Homo sapiens: one gene and its partners. The protein of the gene in region 4 interacts with the protein of the main gene of each other region in a biochemical or structural test. Each region holds a gene or a part of one and is shown on either strand. Other genes may lie near its edges.

Region 1 (2,773 bases), on a different chromosome or scaffold from region 4:
GTTAAGTAGCTCTTGGATGTGATTTCCTTCCACCCAAAAAATATGGGCAAAGCCCCCCAGAGGGAAGGTCAAAAGGATGCAGTGGGGTAATATTTCTAGCTGTATGAAGGGGTCTCCAGGCCTCCGCTGCCCTAGCCTGGTGATGCCAGCAGCAAAGAGCAAGGAACCAAAGGGCAGCCTTCCCCACGGCCTGCCTGCCAGTCACCAGTTTGAGCCAGAAAGCAGTGGAGGGGGACGACAGAATTATACTGTTGTTAATATTGTCTATATGTGAAAACTAATCTTGGGATAATATAATATTCCTTGCCCAACCCCATCCCCACCACCCAAGCAATTGAATTCTTTAAAAAACAGCTTCACAGAAAATATGGGGAAGACCAGCTTTTATAGGGCTTGCTCAACAATTTTGAGATGTGCACAGTAAGAGAACTTTAGTTCTGATCCCTTTGACAGCGGAACAGGGGGCATGGAAAACAGCGTATTTCTGGTTCAGGAAATACCCTTCATTTTATGCATGACAGCATTGATGATGAATAGAGACGGAGACTTTTAGTCTTGAATATTTCACTTGCTTTGAGCAAAAGTAGTTAAGAACACAGTTTAAGCCCAGGAAAATGGAGTAGTTAAGTACTCATAGAGGGTTGAAGCAATAGAAGTTTTGAGAAGGCCCAATGGCTCAATGCATTTCTTTCTTTGCAGTATGCCACCACGGGCTGTTCCCTGACCCTGCACCATACGGAGAAACCAGAACATGAAGACATATGTGAATACCGTCCCTACTCCTGCCCATGTCCTGGTGCTTCCTGCAAGTGGCAGGGGTCCCTGGAAGCTGTGATGTCCCATCTCATGCACGCCCACAAGAGCATTACCACCCTTCAGGGAGAAGACATCGTCTTTCTAGCTACAGACATTAACTTGCCAGGGGCTGTCGACTGGGTGATGATGCAGTCATGTTTTGGCCATCACTTCATGCTGGTGCTGGAGAAACAAGAGAAGTACGAAGGCCACCAGCAGTTTTTTGCCATCGTCCTGCTCATTGGCACCCGCAAGCAAGCCGAGAACTTTGCCTACAGACTGGAGTTGAATGGGAACCGGCGGAGATTGACCTGGGAGGCCACGCCCCGTTCGATTCATGACGGTGTGGCTGCGGCCATCATGAACAGCGACTGCCTTGTTTTCGACACAGCCATAGCACATCTTTTTGCAGATAATGGGAACCTTGGAATCAATGTTACTATTTCTACATGTTGTCCATGATGTGACTTTCGTAAACCTTCAAAATTATTTGGGCATAGTGCTCTATGTTTAATAAAGGTTTTTATAGATGTTTTATTCCATATGTCTTCACAAGTCAGGACCCACAATTACCCGTGTTTTGTTTGAACAGCAGTGTCCCATCTGGCTTCGACCCAACAAAGTTCATTAACCTGGGATGAATGGGGTTGGCCTGTTGGTGATTTGGATGCTGTTCTGTGATCTAAAACAACTCTTATTGAATTGTATTTACTCCCTAAACAACACTTGACAGGCTGTTGCACAGGGCTTCTATAGATCAGTGTGTTAGGAATGGGAGGCCCCTTCCTGCCTGCCTTCCCATATTGGTCCCTTGACATTGACAAAAGCACAGTGACTGTCAGCAGATTCCTTTACTTTTGTTTGTGGGAGGTAGGAATTGTTTTAATGCATTTTAAACAGTGTTTCTGAAATTGGATGGCTGGCTAATAGACACTGAATCACCCGGAGTGCTTATCTTAAAATTGCAGATTTAGGGAGCCTGCCAATTTAACAGTCTCATCAGGTGATTCTTTTCAACAGTAATGTTTGAGAATTACTGGGTTAAATTGTGGGAAAGGGTCCAGATTTTAAAGGTGCTTTAAGGTTGCCCTCTGCCGATACTGTTTGTCTTTCTACTGTTTCATCCCCTAACTTCCCCCAACCCTCAAATTAAAACTAGAACTATAGATCCACATGAACGCACGCCTGAGATTTGGCCACTCACCTATGTTTTGGGTGGATTGCCTAGGAAAGCAAGTCATATGGCCATTGATAGTTCTCATGTAATTAGTTTTGCTCACCACTAGTACAGATGACCCGTTTACACGTGGCTTCCCTCGGAAGCCCTCCTCAACAGTAGCTGGTGTGAAAGACTAAATCAGTAGAGTTGGAAAAGCTTTATAACCGGTGTGTCATATGCTTGCTATTTAAAGCTGTGTGTTGGTTTTGTTTTTCTGCCACATTCACTAGTTTTTTAATAAATATTTTCCAAAAATGGATATTGTGCTTCATTTCCCTAATTGAGTAATGGGTATTTATTGAGCATCTACTGTGTGCAAGTGCAATGAACCTTCGTCACTACATCTGGGGTTGGAACTTTCACTGTTTGTTTCCACTGTGGAAACAGTCATTGGGCCAAGGTCATGGCACGGGTCCATGACAGCACTGGGGTCCGGGCTCATGTGTCTGAACCACTGACTGTCAGTGCTGCAGGTCTCCTCCCAGGGCTGTCGTTTCTATCTGACAGTGCCAGTACCTGTGCAATAAGAGGATTGCTCCAGCTTTACAGAGTCAGAAGGAAGACGCTTGGCCACTGCTGACATCCAGAGTGCTGGCGTTGATCCAAGCTGACCCACTCCCTCAGTCCCAACCCTAAACTCTCAAAAGAATTTAGAGGATTAGGGCCAAATGCTCAGCAAGGATTGAAGGCTGCTTACCTCAGTGTCCCAATTTCTTTCTTTTTTTTTTTTTTTTTTTTTGAGACAGAGGCTGGAGTGCA
Region 2 (3,500 bases), on a different chromosome or scaffold from region 4:
GGGAGTATTTTAAACTTAAGTAAGTCTCTTTCCTTTGGGAATGAAGGCGATAGGCCCGGCGCCGTGGCTCACACCTCTGTAATCCCAGCACTTTGGGAGGCCAAGGTGGGCGGATCATGAGGTCAGAAGACCCAGACCATCTTGGCCAACATGGTAAAACCCCGTCTCTACTAAAAATACAAAAATTAGCTGGGCATGGTGGCGTGCGCTTGTAGTCACAGCTACTCGGGAGGCTGAGGCAGAAGAATTGCTTGAACCCGGGAGGTGGAGGCTGCAGTGAGCCAAGACTGTCCCACTGCACTCCAGCCTGGGCGGCAGAGCAAGACTCCGTCTCAAAAAACAAAAACCAAAAAAACAAAATGAAGGTTATATCAATATCAAAAAAACGAGTTTGCAAACTTTTTATTTTGCTTCTAAAAGTAGTTGTACAAAATCCTCCTACCTGTGCATGGAAGAGTGATAAGCTCCTGACAGTGTGTAAAGGGATCAATACTTTCACCAGAAACTGTTTGTGTTCTGCCTTAAGAGGTAAAGCAAAGCCATTGATAATACTAGGGAGAAAAAAGAGACACAAATTAGCAATGTTACCACAAGTTGAACTGAGACAAACTGTTCTTGTGATATTAATTAAACTTAATCAGTTTGTTTGTACAAAACAACATAATACCCACCCCAGTGGCATTCAGAATTTCCTTTTTTTTTTTTTTTTTTTTTTTTTTGAGACAGAGTCATCTTGCTCTATTGCCCAGGCTGGAGTGCAGTGGCCCAATCTCAGCTCACTGCAACCTTCGCCTCCGGGATTCAAGCTATTCCTATGCCTCAGGCCTCCCAAGTAGCTGGGATTACAGGCACCCACCACCATGCCTGGCTAATTTTTTTGTATTTTTAGTAGAGAAGGAGTTTCACCATATTGTCCAGACTGGTCTAGAACTCTTAACTGCAAATGATCTGCCCACCTTGGCCTCCCAAAGTGCTGGGATAATAGGCGTGAGCCACCACACCCAGCCAGGATTTCTTAATGACTTCAAGGAATACAAAAAGTTGGAAGGAAATTTAAGAGAAGAAAATTTGCTTCTGGTCACCCAACAAAGGCTCCTGTGCTCCTAAAATTAGTCAGATGGTTTCCAAAAGCTCTTTATCAAAACCCTTTATTTTCCCTCCCTTTTCCTTCTCCAAATAATGGCCCGCCTTGCTTGCTTCCGCCTTAAATATGACCTTTTCCATTTCCAGACATCATTCCTTCTCATTCCTGAAACCTCTGCCCAGCCTAGGGAAATCACTGAGAGAAAGCCATGTGACTCCACCTTCTTTTTCTCTTCATATTAGGAGAAAAGATTAAGTAATCATATTGTCCAGCTACATTATCCTCCCTTGTGTGTAGAAACTTACACCACAGCTCTTTCCAATTCATTCCACTACTCCAGGCTGCAGCTGTTCAAGGACTATACCTGGATACACAACTCCTTTGAAAATGGCAATCTTTCCAATTTATTATAAACTTGCTTTCAACAGATAAGGCAAAGGACCAGATAGCCTAAAAACTAATGAGAATAAGATGTTTTGGAGTAACTAGCCTGACCACAATTAGATGTACCATCTTTCTAGTAATGAATGAACTGTCAGCTCTTTCAGTCATTCCAGTGGAAATGGCAATGCATACTTGTGGAACAAGGGGAACAGGAAATTGTGTCTTGTAGAGTCAGCTGGAAAATATGCTAATAGGCACAAATGAGAGAGACCCAATGTACATACAGCAAGAGAACTAGGTGAGCATCTCTTGGTGCCACCTGAACCTAATTTTTAAAATAATATTCATCTGAGATTAGCAATTAGAAAAACCGTGCTCACCTTCCTAATATTTCCAGCAGTTCAGCTACACCATTGAAGTGTTCTGTTTCATAAACAAACCTGAGAGAAGAGGAGAAAAGGGAGGAGAAAGGAGGAGAGGAGGAGGAGAAGGAAGGGATAAAAAGAGGAGGAGGAGGAGGAGAAGGGGGAGGAGGAGGAGAAGAGGAGGAGGAGGAGGAGAGCGGGGAAGAGAGGAGGAGAGGGAGGACAAGGGGGAAGAGAGAAGGAGGAGGAGGAGGGGGGAAGAGAGGAGGAGGAGAGGAGGGGGGAAGAGAGGAGGAGGAGAGGAGGGAAGAGAGGAGGAGGAGAGGAGGGAAGAGAGGAGGAGAGGAGGGAAGAGAGGAGGAGAGGAGGGAAGAGAGGAGGAGAGAGGGGAAGAGAGGAGATGGGGGAGAGATGGGGGAAGAGAGGAGAGGGAGGAGAAGATGGGGAGAGAGGGGGAGGAGAGGAGGGAAGAGCGGAGGAGAGAGGGGAGAAGAGGGGGGAGGAGAGGGTGGAAGGGAGGAGGAGCAGAGGGAAAAGGGAGGAGGAGGGGGGAAGAGAGGAGGAGACGGGGGAGAGATGGGGGGAAGAGAGGAGGAGAGGGAGGAGGAGAGGAGGAGGAGGGGGAGGGGGAGAAAAGGAGGGAAGAGAGGAGTCGGGGAGGAGAGGAGAAGGGGGGAAGAGAGGAGGGGAGCGGGAAGATGGGGGAGGGAGAGGTGGGGGAAGAGAGGAGGACAGGGAGGAGAAGAGGAGGAGAAGGGGGAGGGGGAGAAAAGGAGGGAAGAGACGGGGGAGGAGAGGAGAAGGGGGGAAGAGAGGGGAGGGGGAAGATGGGGGAGGGAGAGGTGGGGGAAGAGAGGAGGAGAGGGAGGAAAAGAGGAGAAGGGGGAGGGGGCAGGAGAGGAGGAGAGCGGGGAGGAGAGGAGGAGAGGGAGGGAGAAAGGAGGAGGACAGGGGATAGAGGAGGAGGAGGAGAGAGGAGAGGAAAAGAGGAGAGGAGGAGGAGATGGGGGAGGAGGAGAAGGGGGAGGAGAAAAGCAGGGGAGAGGGAAGAGGAGGGGGAAAGTAGGGGGAGAGGAGGGATAGAGAAGAAGCAGTGGGGGGAGGAGGGAGAGGAAGAGGAAAAGAGGAGGAAGAGGAGGGTGGGAGGAGAAGATGGGGGAGGAGAGGAGAAGATGGGGGAGGAGAGGAGAAGATGGGGGAGGAGAGGAGGGGGAGGGGGTAGAGGAAGAGGCAGGAGAGTCAGTAGAATGAAGGAAGGCAGGCAGAAAGGGAGAAAGAGAAGTCAGTACACCGTTTTCAGATATTTGAGATTTACTTAATACTCATAAAAACACCAACTTTGCTTCTCCTTCTTCCCCCATCACACTCCACTTACCTTAGAAAAATATTGTTAATCTGTTTTCGGATAAATGCTCTAAGACCAAGAAACTTGCCATAAATTCTGTGTAAGACTGTTTTTAAGTAGTCCCGTTCCCGAGGGTCTTCGCTGTCAAATAGCTCCAGAAGCTGTTGTAAATGAAAGACATTATAGCTGTCAAAGGCGGTTTCAGAAAAGGATTTAGGAATTCTATTATTTAAAATCCCCTTCTTCCTTCCTCAAAAAATGTGTTGAATATCTATTATGTGCCAAGCACAGTGCTAGTCTTTGGGCATATCATGATAAACAA
Region 3 (3,500 bases), on a different chromosome or scaffold from region 4:
CCATAATATGGCTAGTGTGGTGGCTCACGCCTGTAATCCAAGCACTTTGGGAGGCCGAGGCAGCAGAATCACTTGAGCCTGGGAGTTTGAGACCAGCCTAGGTAACATAGCAAGACACTGTCTCTACAAAAAAAAAATTTTTTTTAATTAGCCAGGCATGTGGCACATACATCTGTGGTCCCAGCTACTCGGGAGGCTGAGAAGGGAGGACTGCTTGAGCCCAGCAGGTAGAGGCTTCAGTGAGCCATGTTCATACCACTGCTCTCCAGCTGAGGCAACAGAGTACGGTTTTGTCTCAAAAAAAAAAATTGTGTATCAAAATCTCCCATAATAGATTTGTGTATCCAAATATTTGGGAATATAGATGGAGAAGAATGTAATTCTGCCAAGGGAGGGTAGAGAAGAAAAGCCTGGCTTCACAGAGCTGATATCTGAGGTTAGCCTTAAAGCGCCAGTGGGAATTTTCTAAGGTAGATGGAACAGAATTATAAAGACAAAGAAGGTGAGATAGGATCCCTGGAGGATCTGACCTCCAGGACCCACTGGCTGCCCTGACTGTCTGGAGCTCCTGCTGCAGCAGGGACAGGCCTGGGCCTCACCTGGGCATGGAAGACAGACAGCGACTTGACAGAGTGCAGGGGGATCAGGACGCGAACCAGGAACTGCTTGTGCTCCGTCTTCAGGGGCAGCGCAAAGCCATTGATGATGCTGAGGAGGAGGCAGAAGAGAGGAAGAGGGCTCAGGTGACCTGGCCCCAGTCCCTCCTTCCAGAATCCTGAGCTCCAGCTGAGGCCCAGGGAGAATCACCTTCCTAGGATCTCCAGCAGCTCAGCCACACCATTGAAGTGCTCGAATTCATAGATGAACCTGCAAGAGAAGAACGCAGGTGGGCTCAAAGCAAGCAGGGTAGGCCCAGTGCCCCCTTAGGCATCCTGCCTGCCCACCCTCACCTGCACGGCACGCTCATCCAACTCTCCCCCAACCCAGAGGCTGCGCTCCCTTCCCAACATCCCAAACCAGGCCCCATTGAGATCCCCGCCCCCCCACACTGAAATGCCCTTCTCAGCCCAGCCACCTCTGCCACTGAGTCCCAAGCTCAAGGCTCTCTTGCCAGTCAACCAAGAGAATGACAAACACTTAGCACATCTACTCCGTACCATGTAAGTCTCAGAATTATCCAGGGAGATGGGGCTTAAGAAATCCATCACATGGATGAAGAAATCAAGACTCAGCGGTTAAATAAAACAACCCCAATGTTAATAGGCAGGGAATCTAATGAACTCCAAGGTGCAGGAGGACAGGGATCATGGCTCACCCATTTTGTAGCTAATAACAACTAATGTTTCAGAGTCCCGGCCTCAGTCCAGGAGCTATGCTGAGTGCTTTGCAGGCAAGGCCCCATGTCACCTCGATAATGGTCCCTGAGTTAGTACAAGCAGCATCCCCATTTTTATCTTATCTTTGAGATGGAATCTCGCTCTGTCGCCCAGGCAGGAGTGCAGTGGCGCAATCTTGGCTCACTGCAACCTCCACCTCCCAGGCTCAAGCGATTCTCCTGCCTCAGCCTCCTGAGTAGCTGGGATTGCAGGTGTTTACCACCACACTCAGCTAATTTTTGTATTTTTAGTAGAGACGGAGTTTCACCACGTTGGCCAGGCTGATCTTGAACTCCTGATCTCAAGTGATCTGCCCACCTCCAACTCCCAAAGTGCTGGGATTACAGGCATGAGCCACTGCACCCAGCCAGCATTCCCATTTTAAAGACGAGCAAACTAGGAGAGAGCTTAAGTAATTTGCCAAAGTTCACCCAAACGTTGGAACCAAACTCAAATGTAGGCCATACAGCTTCAGAGCCATGGTCTCAACTACAAGGCCACGTGAGCCTTGATGCCCAGTGGGTGCTGGTGCTCAGTGCATGTTTGCAGAAAGAATCTCTCTCTGGGTCCTTATGGCCTGGCATGATAAGGGTCAAATGATTTAGCTCCTAGGCCCCTGGACTGACCCAGTCCCTGCAAACCATTTCATCTCTCTTGGCCTCTACTTTCTCATCTGTAAAATGGAAATAAATACCCATTCTCTGTCAACTTCACAGGCTTTGTATAATCAATATGTAATACGTTACTGAGAAAGGGCTTGGAAAACAGAAGTTCTACAAGGGCCCCTGCAGCCCAGGAGCCTTTGCTGCAGTCTTCTTTTTTTTTGTTTTCTTTTCTTTTTTTTTTTGAGACACAGTCTCCCCGTTGCCCAGGCTGGAGTGCAGTGGCATGATCTCGGCTCACTGTAAACTCCACCTCCTGGGTTCATCCGTCTCGCTCTGTCGCCCAGGCCGGACTGCGGACTGCAGTGGCGCAGTCTCGGCTCACTGCAAGCTCCGCTTCCCGGGTTCACGCCATTCTCCTGCCTCAGCCTCCCGAGTAGCTGGGACTACAGGCGCCCGCCACCGCGCCCGGCTAATTTTTTGTATTTTTAGTAGAGACGGGGTTTCACCTGGGTTCAAGTAATTCTTGTCTCAGCGTCCCAAGTAGCTGGAATTACAGGTGCCCACCACCATGCCTGGCTAATGTTTGTATTTTTATTAGAGACGGGGTTTCACCATGTTGGCCAGGTTGGTCTCAAACTCCTCACCTTAGGTGATCCACCCACCTCGGCCTCCCAAAGTGCTGGGATTACAGGTGTGAGCCACCGCACATGGCCTTTGCCGCAGTCTTCTAACAGCCCTCTCACCCTCCCCAGGTCTCTGCTGGGCAGGCAGCAGCCACTCACCGGAGGAAGATGTGGTTGCACTGTTTGCGGATGTAGGCCCGGAGACCCAGGAACTTGCCATAGACCCGGTGCAGGATGGTCTTGAGGTACTCACGCTCCCGGGGATCCTCACTATCAAATAGCTCCAGGAGCTGTGGGAACCAGAGTCAGGGTCAGGGTCAGGGTCAGGGGAAAGGTCCACCCCAGGTTGCTTCCATCCTATCCCTGGCCCCTCAGAGAGCCTGCCCCTGCCTTGTGGTACCACCCAGCCTGGGCTCCCCACTTCACCATCAGGACAAACTTTTGATCCACATATCTCTTGGCCACGGAGGGCTGGAAGTCTGGGCTCTCCAAGAAACGCAGGAAAAACTCATATACCAGCTGGGGGAGGGGGACAGACAAAAAGGTGAGTTCAGTAACAGCCTCACCCACTCATTCCACCCTATGGCCCTCATCCAACTGTCTAGGGGCTAAGGAGGCCCTCTCCCCATGCCTTGGATCTCTTCTGAAACTTGGATCTCTGTCTTCCCCAACCCTTCAGACCTGCAGGTGTGGCCACGAAGGCTCAAGATTGGGCTCATCCTCTTCAGGGTCAAATTCAGGGTTCTCACTGGGCGGCAGAGTCCGGAAGATATTCACTGAGATCTGAGTGGCAGAGTTGGGGTTCATTAAGGAAAAGCCCTTGAAGACAGAAGCCAGGGAGTCTCTCATTCAAAGCTTTTTTTTTTTTTTTCTTTCCCAAGACAGGGTCTCGCTCT
Region 4 (3,500 bases):
TGCAGGGGCTCTCAACTGTAATCCCAGCTCTTAGAGCAGCAGAGGTGGGAGGATAGCTTGAACCCAGGAGTTTGAGACCTGCTGGGCAATATAGCGAGACCCCATTCTCCACAAAAAGGAAAAACAAAAAAAGACAAGTAAACAAAGATCCTGATAGGATGACCAGCATAAAGTAGGTGCTGAATAAATAGAGACTGTTTATCATTATTATTATTATTATTATTTGAGACGGAGTCTCACTCTGTCACCCAGGCTGGAGTGCAGTGGTACGATCTTGGCTCACTGCAACCTCAATCTCCTGGGTTGAAGCCATTCTCCTGCCTCAGCCACCTGAGTAGCTGGGATTACAGGTGCCCACCACCGTGGCTAAGTTCTGTATTTTTTAGTAGGGACGGGTTGTCATCATATTGGCCAGGCTGGTTTCAAACTCCTGACCTCAGGTGATCTGCCCGCCTTGGCCTCCCAAAGTGGTGGGATTACAGGCGCGAGCCACCACGTCTGGCCGAGGCTGTTTATTATTATTATTTGTTAATTATTTATACCTATGTTTTCTTTTAAAATTTTACAGTTTTAATTCCTTTTTTTAAATTTTTGTTTGTTTGTTTGTTTGTTTATTTTGAGACAGGATCTCACTCTGTCATCCAGGCTGGAGTGCAGTGGCACAATCTCAGCTCACTTCAGCCTCTGCCTCCCAGGCTCAAGCAATTCTCCCACTTCAGCCTCCTGAGTAGCTGGGACCACAGATGTGCACCACCACTCCCAGCTAACTTTTTGTATTCTTGGTGGAGATGGGGTTTCATCATGTTGCAGTCTGGTCTCAAACTCCTGAGCTCAAGCAATACATCCATCTTGGCTTCCCAAAGTGTTAGGATTACAGGCATAAGCCACAGTGCCTGGCCTAGTTTTAGCTCTTATGTTTAATTAAGGTCCTTTATTCATTTTAAGTTTTATTTATTTATTTATTGAGACGGAGCCTTGCTCTGTCACCAGGCTGGATTGCAATGTCATGATCTCGGCTCACCGCAACCTCCTCCTCCCGGTTTCAAGCGATTCTCCTGCCTCAGCCTCCCAAGTAGCTGGGATTACATGCTTATGCCACCATGCCTGGCTAATTTTTGTATTTTTAGTAGAGATGGGGTTTCACCATGTTGGCCAGGCTGGTCTCGAACTCCTGCCCTCGGGTGATCCACCCGCCTCGGCCTCCCAAAGTGCTGGGATTACAGGCATGAGCCACCGTGGCTGGCCTAACTTTTTTATTTTTATTTTTTGTAGAGACAGAGTCTGGCCATGTTACCCAATCTGATCTTGAACTCCTGCTGTCATCTGATCCTCCTGCCTCAGCCTCCCAAAGTGCTGGGATAAGAGGTGTGAGGCACCATCCCCGGCCAGTTTGCAGTCTAAGTATGATGTTAGCTGTGGGTCTTTCCCTTTCCCTTTCTCTTTCCCTTTTCCTTTTCCTTTCCCCTTTCCCCTTTCTTTTTTCCTTTCCTTTCCTTTCCCTTCTGCTTTCCTTTCCCTTCCGCTTTCCTTTCCTTTCCCTTCCGCTTTCCTTTCCTCCCCTCCCCTCCTCTCCTCTCCTCTTTTCTTTCCTCTTCTCTCTCCTCTTCTCTCTTCCTCTCTCCTTTCTCCTCTGATATCTGAAGACTAAGCTGTGGATGTTTCATAAAAGTTCTTTCTGGGGTGGGTGCAGTGGCTCATGCCTGTAATCCAAGCACTTTGGGAGGCTGAGGTGGGCGGATCACAAGGTCAGGAGATCGAGACCATCCTGGCCAACATGGTGAAACCCCGTCTCTACTAAAAATACAAAAACAAAATTAGCCGGGCGTGGTGGCAGGAGCCTGTAGTTCCAGCTAGTTGGTGATAGAGTGAGACTCTGACTCAAAAGAAAAAAAAAATGCTTTCTGGCTGGTTGCTCTGACTCTTTCACCCTATAATCTCAGTGCTTTGGGAGCCTATGGCAGGAGAAGTGCTTAAGGCCACGAGTTGGAGACTGCAGCAAGCTATGATTGCAGGCCACAGAGCAAGACTTTGCCTCTAAATTAAAAATAAATAGATAATAAATAAAATAAAAGCTCTTTATTAGGTTGAAGGAGTTTACTCCTATTCCTAGTTTTCTGAGTATTTTTTGTTATAAAAGGGTGTTGCATTTTGCCAAAATTTTTTTCTGTGTCTATTTTCCTATATTCTATTGTTATCGTGTATTATATTAATTGGTTTTCAGATGTTAAACCAACCAAGCTTTCCTGGGTTAATTCTTTTTTTTTTTTTTTTTTTTTTTTTGAGATGGAGTCTCGCTGTCGCCCAGGCTGGAGTGCAGTGGCGTGATCTCGGCTCACTGCAGGGTCTGCCCCCTGGGGTTCACGCCATTCTCTTGCCTCAGCCTCCCGAGTAGCTGGGACTACAGGCGCCCGCCACCTCGCCCGGCTAATTTTTTGTATTTTTAGTAGAGACGGGGTTTCACCGTGTTAGCCAGGATGGTCTCCATCTCCTGACCTCGTGATCGCCCGCCTCGGCCTCCCAAAGTGCTGGGAATACAGATGTGAGCCACCGCGCCTGGCGTCCTGGGTTAATTCTTGTTTGGTCATTTGTAATCTTTTTTATGTGTTGCTGGATTTAGTTTGCTACTGTTTTGTTGAGGATTTTTATATCTATATTCACAAGGGATATTGGTTTGTGGTTTTACTGTGATGTCTCTGTCTGGTTTTGGTATGCTGGCCTCATAGATGAGTTGACAGTGTTCCGTTCCGAATTTCTTCGAAAAGTTTGAGAATAATTGGTATTAGTTCTTTACATATTTGATAGAATTTAAAATGAAGCCAGCCGTGTGTTTCTTTTTTCTTTTTTTTGAGACAGGGTCTCACTCTTACCCACGCTGGAGTGTTACCCACTATCACGTTTCACTGCAGGCTTGACCTCCCAGGCTCAACTCCTACCTCAGCCTCCTGAGTAGCTGGGACCTCAGGCATGTGCCACCATGTGTGGCTAATTTTTTTATTTTGATAGAGATGGGGTGTCCCTATGTTGCTCAAGCTAAAGTGAGGCAATCTGGGACTGCACTTTTCTTTGTAGGGATATTTTGATTACTCATTCAGTCTTTTGTTTTGTTTTGTTTTTTTGGAGACAGAGTCTCTCTCTCTGTCACCCAGGCTGGAGTGCAGTGGCACAATATTGGCTCACTGCAGCCTCTGCCTCACAGGTTCAAACGATTCTTGTGCCTCAGCCTCCAGAGTAGCTGGGACTACAGGGGCGCGCCACCACACCTGGCTAAATTTTTTTTTGTTTTGTTTTTAGTAGAGACGGGATTTTGCCATGTTGCACAGGCTGGTCTCAATCTCCTGAAGTCAAGCAATCCGCCTGCCTTGGCCTCCCAATGTGCTAGGATTATCATTCAGTCTTTTCACTTCTTATGGGTATATTCAGATTTTCTGTTTCTTCTTGTGTTAGTTTTGGTAGTTTGTATCTTTCTAGGAGTTTGTCCATTTCACCTATGTCATCTAATA

What was found. The genes of interacting proteins can lie anywhere in the genome.
Region 1: the proteins of CHEK2 (region 4) and SIAH2 form a complex in vitro, tested with the Homo sapiens proteins (one study listed by BioGRID).
Region 2: the proteins of CHEK2 (region 4) and PPP2R5E form a complex in vitro, tested with the Homo sapiens proteins (one study listed by BioGRID).
Region 3: the proteins of CHEK2 (region 4) and PPP2R5B form a complex in vitro, tested with the Homo sapiens proteins (one study listed by BioGRID).

Annotation. Positions count from the first base shown.
Region 1 is NC_000003.12:150,740,625-150,743,397, reverse strand, and holds the end of SIAH2 (E3 ubiquitin-protein ligase SIAH2), read left to right. Parts: intron 1-699; coding exon 700-1,257; 3' UTR 1,258-2,273; downstream 2,274-2,773. UniProt on the Homo sapiens protein: E3 ubiquitin-protein ligase that mediates ubiquitination and subsequent proteasomal degradation of target proteins.
Region 2 is NC_000014.9:63,393,378-63,396,877, forward strand, and holds part of PPP2R5E (serine/threonine-protein phosphatase 2A 56 kDa regulatory subunit epsilon isoform), read right to left. Parts: intron 3,340-3,500; coding exon 3,209-3,339; intron 1,909-3,208; coding exon 1,849-1,908; intron 552-1,848; coding exon 443-551; intron 1-442. UniProt on the Homo sapiens protein: The B regulatory subunit might modulate substrate selectivity and catalytic activity, and might also direct the localization of the catalytic enzyme to a particular subcellular compartment.
Region 3 is NC_000011.10:64,927,689-64,931,188, reverse strand, and holds part of PPP2R5B (serine/threonine-protein phosphatase 2A 56 kDa regulatory subunit beta isoform), read right to left. Parts: intron 3,388-3,500; coding exon 3,286-3,387; intron 3,124-3,285; coding exon 3,031-3,123; intron 2,895-3,030; coding exon 2,764-2,894; intron 868-2,763; coding exon 808-867; intron 709-807; coding exon 600-708; intron 1-599. UniProt on the Homo sapiens protein: As the regulatory component of the serine/threonine-protein phosphatase 2A (PP2A) holoenzyme, modulates substrate specificity, subcellular localization, and responsiveness to phosphorylation.
Region 4 is NC_000022.11:28,728,321-28,731,820, reverse strand, and holds part of CHEK2 (serine/threonine-protein kinase Chk2), read left to right. Parts: intron 1-1,272; coding exon of another isoform or gene 1,273-1,401; intron 1,402-3,500. UniProt on the Homo sapiens protein: Serine/threonine-protein kinase which is required for checkpoint-mediated cell cycle arrest, activation of DNA repair and apoptosis in response to the presence of DNA double-strand breaks.